2 linked regions of the Homo sapiens genome follow. The protein of the gene in region 2 interacts with the protein of the main gene of each other region in a biochemical or structural test. Each region holds a gene or a part of one and is shown on either strand. Other genes may lie near its edges.

The links. The genes of interacting proteins can lie anywhere in the genome.
Region 1: of the proteins of IRAG1 (region 2) and PRKG1, one has a biochemical effect on the other in vitro, tested with the Homo sapiens proteins (one study listed by BioGRID).

Annotation. Positions count from the first base shown.
Region 1 is NC_000010.11:52,288,333-52,295,997, forward strand, and holds part of PRKG1 (cGMP-dependent protein kinase 1), read left to right. Parts: intron 1-393; coding exon 394-516; intron 517-598; coding exon 599-661; intron 662-1,891; coding exon 1,892-1,958; intron 1,959-5,469; coding exon 5,470-5,568; 3' UTR 5,569-7,665. UniProt on the Homo sapiens protein: Serine/threonine protein kinase that acts as a key mediator of the nitric oxide (NO)/cGMP signaling pathway. GMP binding activates PRKG1, which phosphorylates serines and threonines on many cellular proteins.
Region 2 is NC_000011.10:10,620,448-10,628,112, forward strand, and holds part of IRAG1 (inositol 1,4,5-triphosphate receptor associated 1), read right to left. Parts: intron 7,579-7,665; coding exon 7,526-7,578; intron 7,317-7,525; coding exon of another isoform or gene 7,314-7,316; coding exon 7,269-7,313; intron 6,137-7,268; coding exon 5,519-6,136; intron 3,410-5,518; coding exon 3,331-3,409; intron 1-3,330.

The DNA.
Region 1 (7,665 bases), on a different chromosome or scaffold from region 2:
TGAGGTGGGGTAGTATCGTTGGTGTTCCTGCGGCCCCTCCTAATGATTTTGGACTTCATCTCAAGTATAATCAATGAGTCAGTAAGTGTGGAAAAGGTCAGAGAGTAGAAGAAGCATCTTGAATGACCAAGGACAGCATGAGGGCTTAGACTCCAGCACTTAAAAGAAAGCAAGAGAAGAGCAGATAAACTTGACCCATTTCTGGTTTCACTAAGTGATTTACTTGGAAGGGCTTCCACACTGTTTTGCTATTAATCTATTTTCATTCCATTGTCACTATTAATCTAAGCCCCCAAATATGAATTGATGTCATCTGTGGAGTTTATAGCAATTCAAGTGTTCTCATGTAGAAAATAAAAGTAATATCTCTTGTCGTGTCTCTCATTCTTGCAGCCCACCTTTCTCAGGCCCAGATCCTATGAAAACCTATAACATCATATTGAGGGGGATTGACATGATAGAATTTCCAAAGAAGATTGCCAAAAATGCTGCTAATTTAATTAAAAAACTATGCAGGTAAGTATTTCAACCACATTATTTTTGAAAACATCATAATGTGAAAAAATTAGATTTAATAAAACCATTATTTTATTTTTAGGGACAATCCATCAGAAAGATTAGGGAATTTGAAAAATGGAGTAAAAGACATTCAAAAGCACAAGTAAGTGTTCTTTCTGCAGAGTTCTGAACACGTGACATCATTTCCCCAGGGTGTTGCTTTTTAAGTTATTGGTGTAAAACTAGTATAATTAGCCTATAGGAACATCCAAAGACAGCGTATAAACTAGTAAGGCTTTTAAATGCCTTTCTAGTTGTGATTATGAAACCTTATTTATATTTATCTGACAACCCTGTAACATAAGAAGCTGAACTCAGTTTCTTACAACTCATACCAACTAGCATTTTTTTCCCCTCTGGCACAAAGGGGAAATGTGTATTTTAAATTTGGGGATTCTATTCTCTACCACAGAATTACAAATAAAAGTCCCCTACTGTATCTTACCTGATTTCCTAAAGACAAAATATATTTTTCCAAGCATTTCCTAATTAGATGTTATAACAGGAGAAAAACATAAGTACAGAATACAGTGTTTTTTAAACAATAGCAACATCTTAAATATCAGACCTTCCCTATGTTGATTGGATGTTCTAAAGCTAAACTAATTGGGTTTTCTCTATTTGTTTGTGTAACACTGACAGGAAATTCACATCCTTATCAAAGAAACATGTTTACTAAAATATCTCTGAATATCTGAAAAGCCTGCTAAGAATTTGTTGTAAGCATTTGCTAATGCTGAAACCCTTCAAAGACAAAAGAAAACAAACAAGCAAAAACTTTAGTCTTTTTTGGTTCTTATTTTCACAGAAAAACTGTACACAAAATATCTTTATTCTTCATTAAAAAAGGGAAAAAAAGAAGAAAATGGGACATGTAGAGACTATGACAATGATGTGAAAAGGTTAATTAGCTGACACTGTGCACTGAATCAGTGGCAAAAATGGAAAGTTAATTTTCTATCCTGACTTTTCATGCCCTGGTTCTACCTCCTTAAAATAAAATATCCTGTAAGGCACAGGGCCAGACACATTATGACATGTATTAAATTTTAATTATAGTGTAGGAACAAGGTCATAGAGACATTATGACTGAATTACAAGGAATAAGTGTTGCATGTTAATTGGTGTTTAAAATTTGACAGTTATACTTTTAAAAATATGTATTTCATAAAATAAACTATTAGGAAAACATATGCAATTAAATAGAAAACATTTTTGTCACATGAAAATGTTTGCCTAACTGCTTCCCATTAGCCATGGACATTGTATACACTGCAATGAGAAGCTTTTAGCTGACACAAAATGTTTTTATCAACGTTTTTTCCTTTTCTAGATGGTTTGAGGGCTTTAACTGGGAAGGCTTAAGAAAAGGTACCTTGACACCTCCTATAATACCAAGTGTAAGTAGACTTTCCAGCTTATAATTGTGTGACATAATTGATGGTGTTTATGTCAGTCAACAATGATCTGTTATTTTTAAAGTTTAATCCTATGATTAAGTTAAACAAACTCTAGGAAAAATGTCACATTAAAATAATGACATATTCTAAAATCCAAACTTGAAAGCAGATAAATTTGGGGATAGTCACTGTAAATGTGTTTTACTCTTCTCTTTTTTAACTATTCATTTGATTCAAGTTTCCCTCATTTATGAACATAAGTTAATTTTTAGCATGGGAAATGTTCAAAATATAGAAATGCAGACAAAAATATATAGGTGAGAGGATCACTTGAGGCCAGGAGTTCAAGAGTTCAAGACCAGCCAGCCTGGACAACATAGTGAGACTCTGTCTCTACAAAAAAAGAAAAGAAAATACTAGCCAGGTGTGCTGATGTGCACCTATAGTCCTAACTACTCAAAAGTCTGGAGCAGGAGGATCACTTGAGCCCAGGAATTTGAGCTTACAGTGAGCTGTGATTGTACCACTATACTTCAGCTTGGGTGACAGAGTGGAAAGACCCTGTCTCTAAAAAAAGAAATAAAATAACACTTTTTCAAAGAGTCTTTACATGATCACTCTTTTTTTTTTTTTTTTTTAATTTTTTTTTTGAGATGGAGTCTTAATCTGTCACCCAGGCTGGAATGCAGTGGCGTGATCTCGGCTTACTGCAACCCCTGCATCCCAGGTTCAAGCAATTCTCCTGCCTCAGTCTCCTGAGTAGCTGGGATTGTAGGCAAGTGCCACCACTCCCAGCTAATTTTGGTATTTTTAGTAGAGACACAGTTTCACCATGTTGGCCAGGCTGGTCTTGAATTCCTGACCTCAAGTGATCCTCCCACCTCGGCCTCCCAAGGGTTGGGATTACAGACGTGAGCACCGCGCTGGGCCTACGTGATCACTCTTTTATTTTTTTATTTTTTTATTTTTTTATTATTATTATACTTTAAGTTTTAGGGTACATGTGCACAATGTGCAGGTTAGTTACATATGTATACATGTGCCATGCTGGTGTGCTGCACCCATTAACTTGTCATTTAGCATTAGGTGTATCTCCTAAAGCTATCCCTCCCCCCTCCCCCCACCCCACAACAGTCCCCAGAGTGTGATGGTCCCCTTCCTGTGTTCATGTGTTCTCATTGTTCAGTTCCCACCTATGAGTGAGAATATGCGGTGTTTGGTTTTTTGTTCTTGCGATAGTTTACTGAGAAATGATTTCCAATTTCATCCACGTCCCTACAAAGGACATGAACTCATCATTTTTATGGCTGCATAGTATTCCATGGTGTATACGTGCCACATTTTCTTAATCCAGTCTATCATTCTTGGACATTTGGGTTAGTTCCAAGTCTTTGCTATTGTGAATAGTGCCGCAATAAACATACGTGTGCATGTGTCTTTATAGCAGCATGATTTATAGTCATTTGGGTATATACCCAGTAATGGGATGGCTGGGTCAAATGGTATTTCTAGTTCTAGATCCCTGAGGAATCGCCACACTGACTTCCACAATGGTTTAACTAGTTTACAGTCCCACCAACAGTGTAAAAGTGTTCCTATTTCTCCACATCCTCTCCAGCACCTGTTGTTTCCTGACTTTTTAATGATCGCCATTCTAACTGGTGTGAGATGGTATCTCATTGTTGTGTTGATTTGCATTTCTCTGATGGCCAGTGATCCAGTGATGATGAGTATTTTTTCATGTGTTTTTTGGCTGCATAAATGTCTTCTTTTGAGAAGTGTCGGTTCATGTCCTTGGCCCACTTTTTGATGGGGTTGTTTGTTTTTTTTCTTGTAAATTTGTTTGAGTTCATTGTAGATTCTGGATATTAGCCCTTTGTCAGATGAGTAGGTTGCGAAAATTTTCTCCCATTTTGTAGGTTGCCTGTTCACTCTGATGGTAGTTTCTTTTGCAGTGCAGGAGCTCTTTAGTTTAATTAGATCCCATTTGTCAATTTTGGCTTTTGTTGCCATTGCTTTTGGTGTTTTAGACATGAAGTCCTTGCCCATGCCTATGTCCTGAATGGTAATGCCTAGGTCTTCTTCTAGGGTTTTTATGGTTTTAGGTCTAACGTTTAAGTCTTTAATCCATCTTGAATTAATTTTTGTATAAGGTGTAAGGAAGGGATCCAGTTTCAGCTTTCTACATATGGCTAGCCAGTTTTCCCAGCACCATTTATTAAATAGGGAATCGTTTCCCCATTGCTTGTTTTTCTCAGGTTTGTCAAAGATCAGATAGTTGTAGATATGCGGCGTTATTTCTGAGGGCTCTGTTCTGTTCCATTGATCTATATCTCTGTTTTGGTACCAGTACCATGCTGTTTTGGTTACTCTAGCCTTGTAGTATAGATGCAGAAAAGGCCTCTGACAAAATTTAACAACCCTTCATGCTAAAAACTCTCAATAAATTAGGTATTGATGGGACATATCTCAAAATAATAAGAGCTATCTATGACAAACCCACAGCCAATATCATACTGAATGGGCAAAAACTGGAAGCATTCCCTTTGAAAACTGGCACAAGACAGGGATGCCCTCTCTCACCACTCCTATTCAACATAGTGTTGGAAGTTCTGGTCAGGGCAATTAGGCAGGAGAAGTAAATAAAGGGTATTCAATTAGGAAAAGAGGAAGTCAAATTGTCCCTGTTTGCAGATGACATGATTATATATACAGAAAACCCCATTGTCTCAGCCCAAAATCTCCTTAAGCTGATAAGCAACTTCAGCAAAGTCTCAGGATACAAAATCAATGTACAAAAATCACAAGCATTCTTATACACCAATAACAGACAAACAGAGAGCCAAATCATGAGTGAACTCCCATTCACAATTGCTTCAAAGAGAATAAAATACCTAGGAATCCAACTTCCAAGGGATGTGAAGGACCTCTTCAAGGAGAACTACAACCCACTGCTCAATGAAATAAAAGAGGAAACAAACAAATGGAAGAACATTCCATGCTCATGGGTAGGAAGAATCAATATCGTGAAAATGGCCATACTGCCCAAGGTAATTTATAGATTCAATGCCATCCCCATCAAGCTACCAATGACTTTCTTCACAGAATTGGAAAAAACTACTTTAAAGTTCATATGGAACCAAAAAAGAGCCTGCATCGCCAAGTCAATCCTGAGCCAAAGAACAAAGCTGGAGGCATCACGCTACATGATCACTCTTATACTTTCATGGCATCTTTGTTTCCATAGCTCTAGCCAAAGTTTATTATATAGAAAGATTTTAGTGATTATTTGTTTTAATCATACAGTTTATTACTCACAAGGGTATAAACTCTCCAAGGATAAGAACCATGTCTGCTTGTACTTACCACTGTGACCCTCAATACCTGCTACATAGTAGATACTCAATGAAATAGTCACTAATAGGGAATAAATACAGAATGCACTTAAAAATTCCAGCTTGGAATTCCACTAAAAAAAATCCACTAAAAAAAACCTGTCCATTTTTTACAGGTTGCATCACCCACAGACACAAGTAATTTTGACAGTTTCCCTGAGGACAACGATGAACCACCACCTGATGACAACTCAGGATGGGATATAGACTTCTAATGTATTTCTCTTACCTGCTTCTGCCTTGCTGAAGACAGCTTTTTCTGAGACACAGCTGCCAGCAAACCTGAGGGAAAGAGAGAAGATTAGTGCTCGGGGTCACCATGATGCCTTTGATCGATGCTGCTCCAGTAACTACAGTGGCATTAGGACTTACCGCTTAGATGACAATAGTGCTCTTTACATGTTTTCTGTTTGAACCTAAAATAGCAGTTGACATGGTGGTCCTGAAGCAAAGCCTTTCACCAGTAAAAGATGTTTTCTATTGTTGCAATGACCTTGCTTTGCTCTGATTATAATTTGAAAGACTGTAGGAAACACTTCAATGTAGTATAAGAGTCTGTACCTTGCTGGAATATTCAAGAAGATGAAAGAATAATATATTGGGTACAATAGATTACTATGGTACAGAAACTGGGCTATTCCCTTTCTTCAAGTGAAGGCTGTGGGATCTATTACTGCAGGCCGGTGTATATACCATACAAAAGAGGACCACACATCTGTTGGTCACAGAGTTCATGTCACACCAGTGCTAGAAGTTTCATGATTTTATTTCCCAGCAGTGCTGATGACAAGACTGAATGTTACCTTTTCTTTCTGACAGATTTTAAAAATTGATATGATAAAAGCACAACTGCTATAGATTCTGCTGAGACCTCTCATAGTAGGTATATATGAGTTTTCACAGAAGACTGAAAAATAATGCATGATATTTGTTTGTTTTTTTTGATAAATTGGCATGACAGAGTGGGGAAAAAAAGCAATTCACAAAACCATTTCATATTTTTTAAAATATTGTGCTTAAAGATGGTCCTGGAAGTAAATGACTAGCAGCCAATTGGTTTTACTTAACATACCCTCAAACTGAGGCTTAAAGTATTCCCTTTTATAAAAATAAATGCTTGGGGTAGGGTGGAGTGGGGAGGGATTAAAACCCATCCAAAAAATAAATAAAAACTATATAGGTGCTATGTATATCTTTCATCTGTAAATGTCAGTGTCTGAACAGACAACACAAATTCAAATCATTATACGTGTAGCCAGAAACTCAAGCATTTTCACTAAAGTTATTAAACCAAACTCCTGTCCAATTTCACTTATACAACATAGTCAGTCTAGAGTTGAGAGACAAAGGTAATTATAAACCTATTTGAACTAGCTTCTTGTCTTAGGCCTGAACCAAAAAACAACAAACAAACAAAAAACAAGAATGAAAAACAGAAATAAAAGAAGTAGAAAAGACAAAGAAAGAAAGCCCAAAGTCAAAGTTGTTAATATTTACAGGTTTACCAGATCTGGAACATTACTTATTTGAGGTCAGAGAACAAAACAAGAACCTGGCCAGGTGTTGATTACCTTTTAGTGAATAAGCTGAGTCCATATACTTGTCTAACTAAGAAAGCAGTACAGAGGAAAACAGGAACCTGATTTTTTTAAAATAAATTTTAAATAAAATAGAATTACTACAATTCTGCAATTTCATACTACCTAAAAAAGACTAGATTTGAAAATGTCAAGCTGATTTACTTTATTCACATGGAGAAAAGAATCCACAAATTAAACTGAGTCCTTCACTGGCATGCCAGTTGACTATTATTAGCTGTCATAAGTAACTCAGCCATTTGGAAGCATTTCCTGGACAAAATTACATTATACCTGTGAAGAAAAATATAGAAGCTTTCAAGCTGTCATTCTGTTTTGGCCCTGTGTGAATTTGGTATATTAAATTGACGCTTGCTTTTTTTTTCAGTAGAGTTTTCTTTTTAATCAATCAAACGCCTACATTTCTGGAAGAAAAAGTCCAATTAGATCATTACACCTTAACTAAGAAGGCAAATCTTATAAATTTTGCTTGAATTGTTCTTACTCAAAACTACCTTAGAATATGGTATCTTATGAAAATATAATATTCTTAAAATTTTGGAGGATAAAATGAAAAGGGTATAAACTTCAATTAGAACTTTAATCCTAAAATATTGTTATTCTTGTATTTTTGGAGTTTTCCGTCCCTTACAATTTCTCCAAATTGGTCTATTCCCCAAGATATCCACTGTTTTCTACAGATTTTAGAATATAAAATTAAACATATCAACCTAA
Region 2 (7,665 bases):
CAAACAAATCAACGAAAAACCCCAGACCTAAATGGGTACACGGGCAAAGATGTAAGAAGTTAAGTCACCCAGTAAGAAAACAAAGTGACTATTTTAACATTTTAAGTTTGAGCTTCCTAGCAAATTAATTGAAATAATAATGAAATTTCACACTAATAATAATAAACTTAAAACAATGACAATTATTGATTATTCTTACTATATTCTGAATAATAAGGAGCAGAAGCAAACACCAGCACGGGTAATGCGTAAGAGAAAGATGTCCATTCAGTCTTTGTCAGTAGCGTTATTCATTGTAAGTAATTTGGGAAATGCAAATGTTTCTACTCTTTAACCTTGTGATTCTCAAGTCTGAACACTTATCTCAAGGGAATGATTTAAAGGAAGAAAAAAGAACAACTAACGGTCCATAATTGTTTATACTAGCATTGTTAATCCTAGTTCAAAGAACAATAGATAGGTCAATACAAGAGGAACTATGCACCCATTAAATCATAACTGAGGAGAAATTGCTGAGTATAAAATAACAAGTAAAAAAAAGAAGCTGTATCTATTCATCAAATCAACTGAAAACATTATAAATATGGGCAAATATTGCAAAGAAGAAAAATTGTTAGTTTTTCAGAATTGATGGGGTTGTGGGTGAAATTTTAAAGTGTTTTTTCCAGTGTTTTAAATATGCTTTAGTAAATTTAAAATTATAATTAGAGAAGTATATGCTGCATTTTCAAAAGATCTCTTTAAAGATGGTTATTTAAAATATTTTGCCCTTGGGAAAAAACACTGTTTGAAATTTTACTTCTGGGAACCTTCTTATTAATGCTGAATAAATAGGTAGGTGTAAGTTACTACAGTTCAGACCAGGGGCTTCCACCATTGTTAGTGACATCCTGGACACATTCACCCAAGAATCCATAGGGCTCTTATGCTGAGACTGGCCCCCAGCAGCTTGAAGCGGGGCAAGGATTTTCAAATGGTGCTCTGTGAAGCCTGGGTCCCTGGAGGTACCTTGGGCCCACAGTCTCAGAAGATGAAGGATCCAAGCCCTTCTATCCCCTTCAACCAGAGCAGCCCCATTTGCATCTCCCCAACACGCTGGCCTCCTACAGATCAGCTTGTCTGAAATGTTGTGCAGCTTAAAAAAAGTTTTAAAACTGTTCATGAGATGGCCAAACCATGAGATTTGGAGTCAGGAGATCCTCGGGCCTCAGTTTCCTCAACTATAAGAGCAAGAATCCCTGCCCCTCTTAGCTGACTGGGAAGATTACATAAAATCAGAGGTAACAAAATGGTTTATACTGTGGAAAATGCTATGGGAAGTTTATTAATTAAGATTGAATTAAAAGGACTAGGTGACACGGATGAACCTTGAAGATGTTTTACTAATTGAAATGAGCTCGACACAAAAGGACAGATACTGTATGATTCCATTTCTAGGAGGGATCTAGAAGAGTCAAATACATAGAGACAGAAAGTAGAAGGTGATCACCAGGGGCTGGGGAGGGAGGGAATAAAGAGTTATTGTTTTAATGAGTATGGCATTTCAGTTTGCAATGATGAAAACGTTCTAGAAATGGATAGTGGTGATGGCTTCATAATATGAATGTACTTACTGCCACTGAACTGTATACTTAAAAATGGCTAAAATGGCAAGTTGAATGTTATATATATTTACAATAAAAAATAGTCCCCCACCCCCTCTGAAAAAGGGAGTACTATATAGAGTAAAATACAAAAGAAAGTCAAGAAAGTAGAAGATTGCAGAGCTGGTGGGACTAACCCACTGCTTTAAGGAACAGGTACCATATGACTCAGAGAGGAGGGAGATAGCCCAGCAGGAGGGAGATGCCGCGGGGACAGAGGCACAGAGGCTAGAGGGTGAGTGGCCACAGAGAAGAGGCTCTGGGAAGAGGGAAGAGCCAGGAGCCTGGCCTGTTGGAAACACTCATCTCTCTCCACTCACCCATGCCTCTTTGCCCACCTCATGGCACTATGGTTACAGTTACAAATTATTTTCATGTACCTATCTCAATGCTCCTGCCACATCTTTTTAAAAATGTTTCTTTTGAGACAGGATCTCACTCTGTACCCCAGAGCGAGACCCTAGAGTACAGTGGCACGATCACAGTTCACTGCAGCCTTGACCTCCCAGGCTCAAGCGATCCTCCCACCTCAGCCTCCCGGGTAGCTGGGACTACAGGTGTGTGTCACCATGCCCAGGTAATTTTTGTATTTTTTGTAGAGATGGGGCTTCGTCATGCTGCCCAGACTGGTCTCAAAGTCCTCAGCTCAAGCAAGCCACCTCCCTCCCAAAGTGCTGGGATTACAGGTTCACCTAGCCCCCTGCCACATCTCATACAATTTCATTCGTTCATTCAACAAATACCTATGCAGGCCCTAGTAGTGCCAGGCATTGTTGTAAGCAGTGGACACACACACACACACACACACACACTCCTGCCCTTGGGGGCTTCTTCTCTAGGGATAATAGCTGACACCTAGATAACACCTGTCATGTACCAGGTATTGTTTTAGGTACTTTATAGATATTAGCTGCTTTAATCTCCATAATCACCTAAGAAGGCAGGTACTGTTCTTAGCCTGGTTTTACATGCCCAGGGAGGTTGAATAGCTTGCCCAGGTCACCTGAGTGGTAGCAGGGCTTACAGTTCCAACTCGTGGTGGGGCTCGACATACTCATGCAGGAGAATGGGGCCGAGGAAGGGTGTTGGGGGCACTGGGAGCAGGGCTGGACTTGCCCAGCTAGATCTAGAGGGGTCAGAACCCTACTGAGAACATCGGCAGAGGTGAGTGCAGAGAGGGAGGCAGTGCGGGGGCTGAAGCCTCATTTTCAGAACCATTTTCCCCGCCATGGTTCTGGCAGAAGGTGGACAGGGAACCAGAGGCTTGGAGGAAGGGGCCTGCAGCTACCCAGCAGGGCAGGGCTGGGGTATGGACTTTGTGGTGACAGCAGATTAGTAAGCAAGAGATGGCCGTGATGCCTTGAAAAGAGGAACTCTTCAGTTTGGGCAGCTTCCTGGGTGTACGAGGAAAAGGAAGTGTCAAAAGTTCAGGCCTGAGGCACCCTTCCAGGCCCACTAGATGCCAGCATGGCTTAGGGAGGGCTGACAGCGAGGCCTGGGGGCTGGTTGGAAGGAGGCAGGTTTGGAGGTGCTGAGCGGGCAGAAGACACAATCGGATTCATTCATTCACCAGCAAATGTTTCCTGAGGAAGACACAGGAAGTCTTGTGTTTACACATTCACCTTCCTTGATCTGGCACAGACAAATCAGCACTCGCTGAGACAGCATCTGCCCCAACCCCACCTACCTTTTTCCTGCTCAGCTGCTTCACTAAGGTCTGGAAGCTTGAGCCCCACTAAGTTCTGATTTCTCATCAGGATGTGCTCCTTTGTGGTAAAAGAAAGAGATAACAATTTCAGATGATGACACTGGGCTGGGCTGTTCTCTTGGCTCTGTCTATGGTTCTGCGACCACTATCTTAGGTGGGAAAGCGGGGCAGCCTGAGAGGTGGGTGGGCAGGCATGGCATGGTGAGGCCTGAGAAGCACCAGGAAATAGTTCCTCTCCCAGTCCGTGAAGGTGCCTGAAACGCCACTGTCAGCACCACTTTCCATGGGTCAGGGACTACCCTTGGCATGGTCTTTTTAAACAAGTCTGTGGGCTTCAGGGTAAATGAACTGCTTGGCCTCACTGTGGCTGAGGTTTGCAAAGGACACACAGGGGCAGAACTAAGGGCTCTGGGACAGGAGGGTCCCCTGGGTGTGTATGGCGCTGCTCCTGGAAACAGCTTTGGCGATCTCATGGCTGGCTGGATCTTCCTGCCCTGTCATTCCGGGCAGTGACTGCTCACTTCCAGGAGCTGCGATTGCCCCACACACTCAGGTCATCAATGGCCTTTTATGGCACCTCTTGAGTTTTTAAACTCTCCAGAAAAGTGAGGCCTGAGAATTGCTGGCTTAGGGCCTCAGCTGGCAGAGCCCGGGGAGAGATGGGATGTGGCCCAAGTGGGCTCACACCTGCTCTAAGCCAATTAGCACCAGACCAAGGACCTGAGTGGAGGCACCTGGCAGAGCTCCTTGCCCCTGTGACTTATGGATCTTCAGTCTGCTGTGTGGCAGAGGGCACTTGGGAATGGTTTGTCCCCCGAGAAGGGAGGAAAGGAAGGGGCCAGCAGAGGGTGCTCATGATCCAAGTGGAAGTCATGGTCAAGGACCCTTTACCCATTTGGTTAGCAAGCCAGAGGCCCACAGCCCATCAGCTTCAGCACACTGGAGTCGGGTAGGGGCTGGGCACTCAGGTGCCAGGGTAGTGGTTAGTGACATGGGGCCTCCAGGTTCCCTGTAACTTCTCTGGGTGGGCGAAATCTGCAGGAGTGTAGGGAGTGAGGAGGCTCTGATAACCAGAGGCCCATGAAGGCAAATCCCTGGCTATCGGCCCCTTGGCTCCAACTTCCGCTAGAGATCCGGGACTGTGGCAACTCCTCTGGGCCCTGTGCTGTTTGATCCGCTAGTTAGTTGGGTCTTTCTGACTAGGAGGAGTTTTGTGTGTAAAATGTTAACATCAGCAGCCACGCCCCAGCTCCCCTGTGCCTCCAGTTCAGAGCATCATGAAGGTATCTGAATAGGATAGTGGCCAGCATTGGAATGTGTCCCTGCCAGCACACAAATCCCCTCAATTGTGCTTGAGTGCTATCGGGCACCTTCTTTTCTTCCCTGCCCCACATTTCCCTCTGTAGAGGAGCCAGGAGAAGCCTCCTGCTCTGAGGGTGCTGGGCCTCACTCTGTGGAATCCAGGTGCCTTGGTTTATATTCCAAGTGGGCCTTCTGGAGGAGACAGGACTGGTCAGAATTGCTTTGTCCTGTTATCTGGTCTCTATCTCTGGATGCCCCCAATCATACCCTGCATAGGGTGGCAACCCCACAGGAGACCGCTGTGCCTGGTTTGATGGCCAACAGAAGCTGAGGGGACACCATGGGCACTGGAAGAAACTCACCATGGGCGGAGCAGCCTTCACACTTGCAGATGGACTTAAAGCTTTTGTTAACAGGCATCAGGAAGGAAGGCTTGGGGGCATCACAAAGGAAATCACTATTTCACCCTTGCTAGCTAATCCTAGGCATGACTGGGCACTCCATCAAGGGATTCCTGTTTATGAGCCACTGACTCCGGTTGGAGGAGGAAAGCAGCCCAGGACTGAGGGGCCCACATGTCCCTCCACACGTCTGCCTTCCCCTGAGATGTGGCTTTGTGTGGCAACTAGATTTTAGACTGAGCTCTGCCTGGTAACTGGCATAAAAAAGCACCTAAAACTGGTATTTAGGAAAGAGATGCCACATAAATAGGCCTGACTTCTCAGAGTGGGAAAATTTACGCCCTCACAAGGCCCAAGTCCAGGCCAGAGCTGCCCTGGCCAGGGGCCCAGACTCAGCCCTGAGGTCTTCAGCCCAGGGAGTACCTGGAGTACACACTCTGCCCAACTGGCCCCCAGGAACCCACCTCTCGGAGCTTGGTCAGTTTCTGCATCCGCACGGGCTGCACTTGTATCTGAAAGTCTTTGAGACCAGGGGCCTTGGCCAGCTTGCCGCCGGCCTTGCCTGCAAAACGCTTTTCTTCCTCTGCCAGTGGCAGCTTGGCAAGCACTTTCTGCAGCCGGGGGCCAGGTTCTTCAGGGCCACTGTCCCAGGAGAGCCCTCGCAGCAGCGGGGGCCGGGACACAGTGGGTGGAAGCTCAGCTTTGGAGCCAGCCTCGGGCCCCATCGGCTCTCCAGCTGGGCCTCTCCCCTGGGAGGCTGGGGGACCCACTCCTGCCGCATCCTGGGTTGGACTTCTCGGCAGAGGGCTGCCCTCCCAGCCCGTTTTCAAGAGCTGCTTCCCCAGCTCGCTCTCCACGGGGCCAGGCTGAGGGCTGTTCAGGGCCATTTTCCCACTGCTGTTTGTAACAGGAGCTAGGCCTTTGGGTGTGGTCTCGGGGTACTGGAGGGGATCGAAGTTTTCCTTTTGTTCTATTGCAATCTCTTTGGACTTCTCAACTGGAGGAGGACGAGGAGCCAGCCTGCCCTGAGACACTTTCCTCTGGTCATTCTGCTTCCTGTCAGCTAGCCCTTTGGGGACGTTCTGAAAAAGACAAGGTAGAGCTGGAACCCTCGGGGGCAGGTTGAGGGGAAACAGGTGAGGCCACTTCTGCTGTGGAGTCTCTGCCCCCACACACCTTGCCAAGGGGCCCATTTGTATAAGTGTGTATGGGGTATGAGTGGACGATGTGGAAGGAGAGGGCTTCTGCCCGAGGTTTGTCAAACAGACAGGAAAATGGAACCTGCAATCCAAAACCAGCCAAGAATTTCCCAAGGGATAGGAGCTGAGGAAAACTGAATAGAAGGCAGCTTTGGCCCTAACTCAGTTGCCCCAGATCTAGCCTTGGTGCTGCTTAGCAAGGCCCTTAACTCTTAGGGACCCAGGTTTGTGAACCCTCTGAAATTATGTATGTGTATGTCTGTGTGTGGAGGGGTGTTTTTCTAGGAAAAACATCCACAGCTTTCAACAATTTCTCAGAGTTCCATGATCCAAAGAGGTTAGGGATCATTGGATGGGGTGATTCTTGCAAAGGTGATGTCTTCCTGCTCAGAAGCTCTAAGATTCTGCAGTGTTAGTTTACTTTGTTCATTCCCCAAGGGAAACCTGGGCCGTGAGCAGCACGTGGGTCTGGGGGTCTGTGTGGCTGCCTCGTGTGTGCTGAGACTCTTCCAGAGGACTGTATCCCAGACCCAGTTCCAGGTGACACTAAATTCTACTGCTGCCCTTGAAACACTGAGCACGTGGGCCCCTCGATGTGAGCAGGGTGGGGCGCTTCTGTTGCTCATCAACAAAGATGAGGTTTTCCCGGCTTCCCCAGACAGAATCCCAGGCAGGGGCTGGCGCTTTCCTGCCCTTTTCACTGGAGCTGACAGGAGCCACAGTCTCACCTGGCCTGGAGGTCCCCCTTGTCTCCAACCAGCAGCCTGACTGGGGGTCAGCGCTGTGAGTATTGCCTCCACGGAGTTCACCCCCCTGAATCCTGCCTCCCCACCCCTCCACCTTAGACTTCTAGTCACTATAAGGCAGGGGAATCTGCTGTTTCCCCAGCCCTGACCCTCCACTCATACGTGTGCATGCACACACACTTGAAGGCTGCCCAGGAGCCAGCCTAGGCTTCTAGGAGACTGTGCCCCCCACACTCAAATCATCCAAAGGGAGCAAAGCTCAAACTCACAGGCTCGCCAGGGTGAGGTGAAGAGACGTCGGCCTCATCCCCCTTCTGCTGGAGAAGGTGAACAGGAGTCAGTCAGCAATGGGAAGAGACCGTGTTTCCTCTTGAAATATCCCCAAGGAGGCCCCCTAGCAGTGGTGTTCATGCCCTCCACCCAGCACCCTCATCTCCAGTGGGTCACGAAGGGCCTCCTGGTGTTCGGGGTAAGGGGAGAGACCCATTGGCATAGAAACAGCACAGCAGGTGGGGGGTCCTGTCACCTGTGGTGGTGCTCCAGGCAGAGGGGATGGCGGGCCACTGCACACATCCAAACCTGGAAGGGTCCAGACACTAGTGAGTGAGGCCCAGCAGCCCAGGCCCTCAGCTGTGCTTTCAGCCACATCTCCCTCCCCGGGCTATC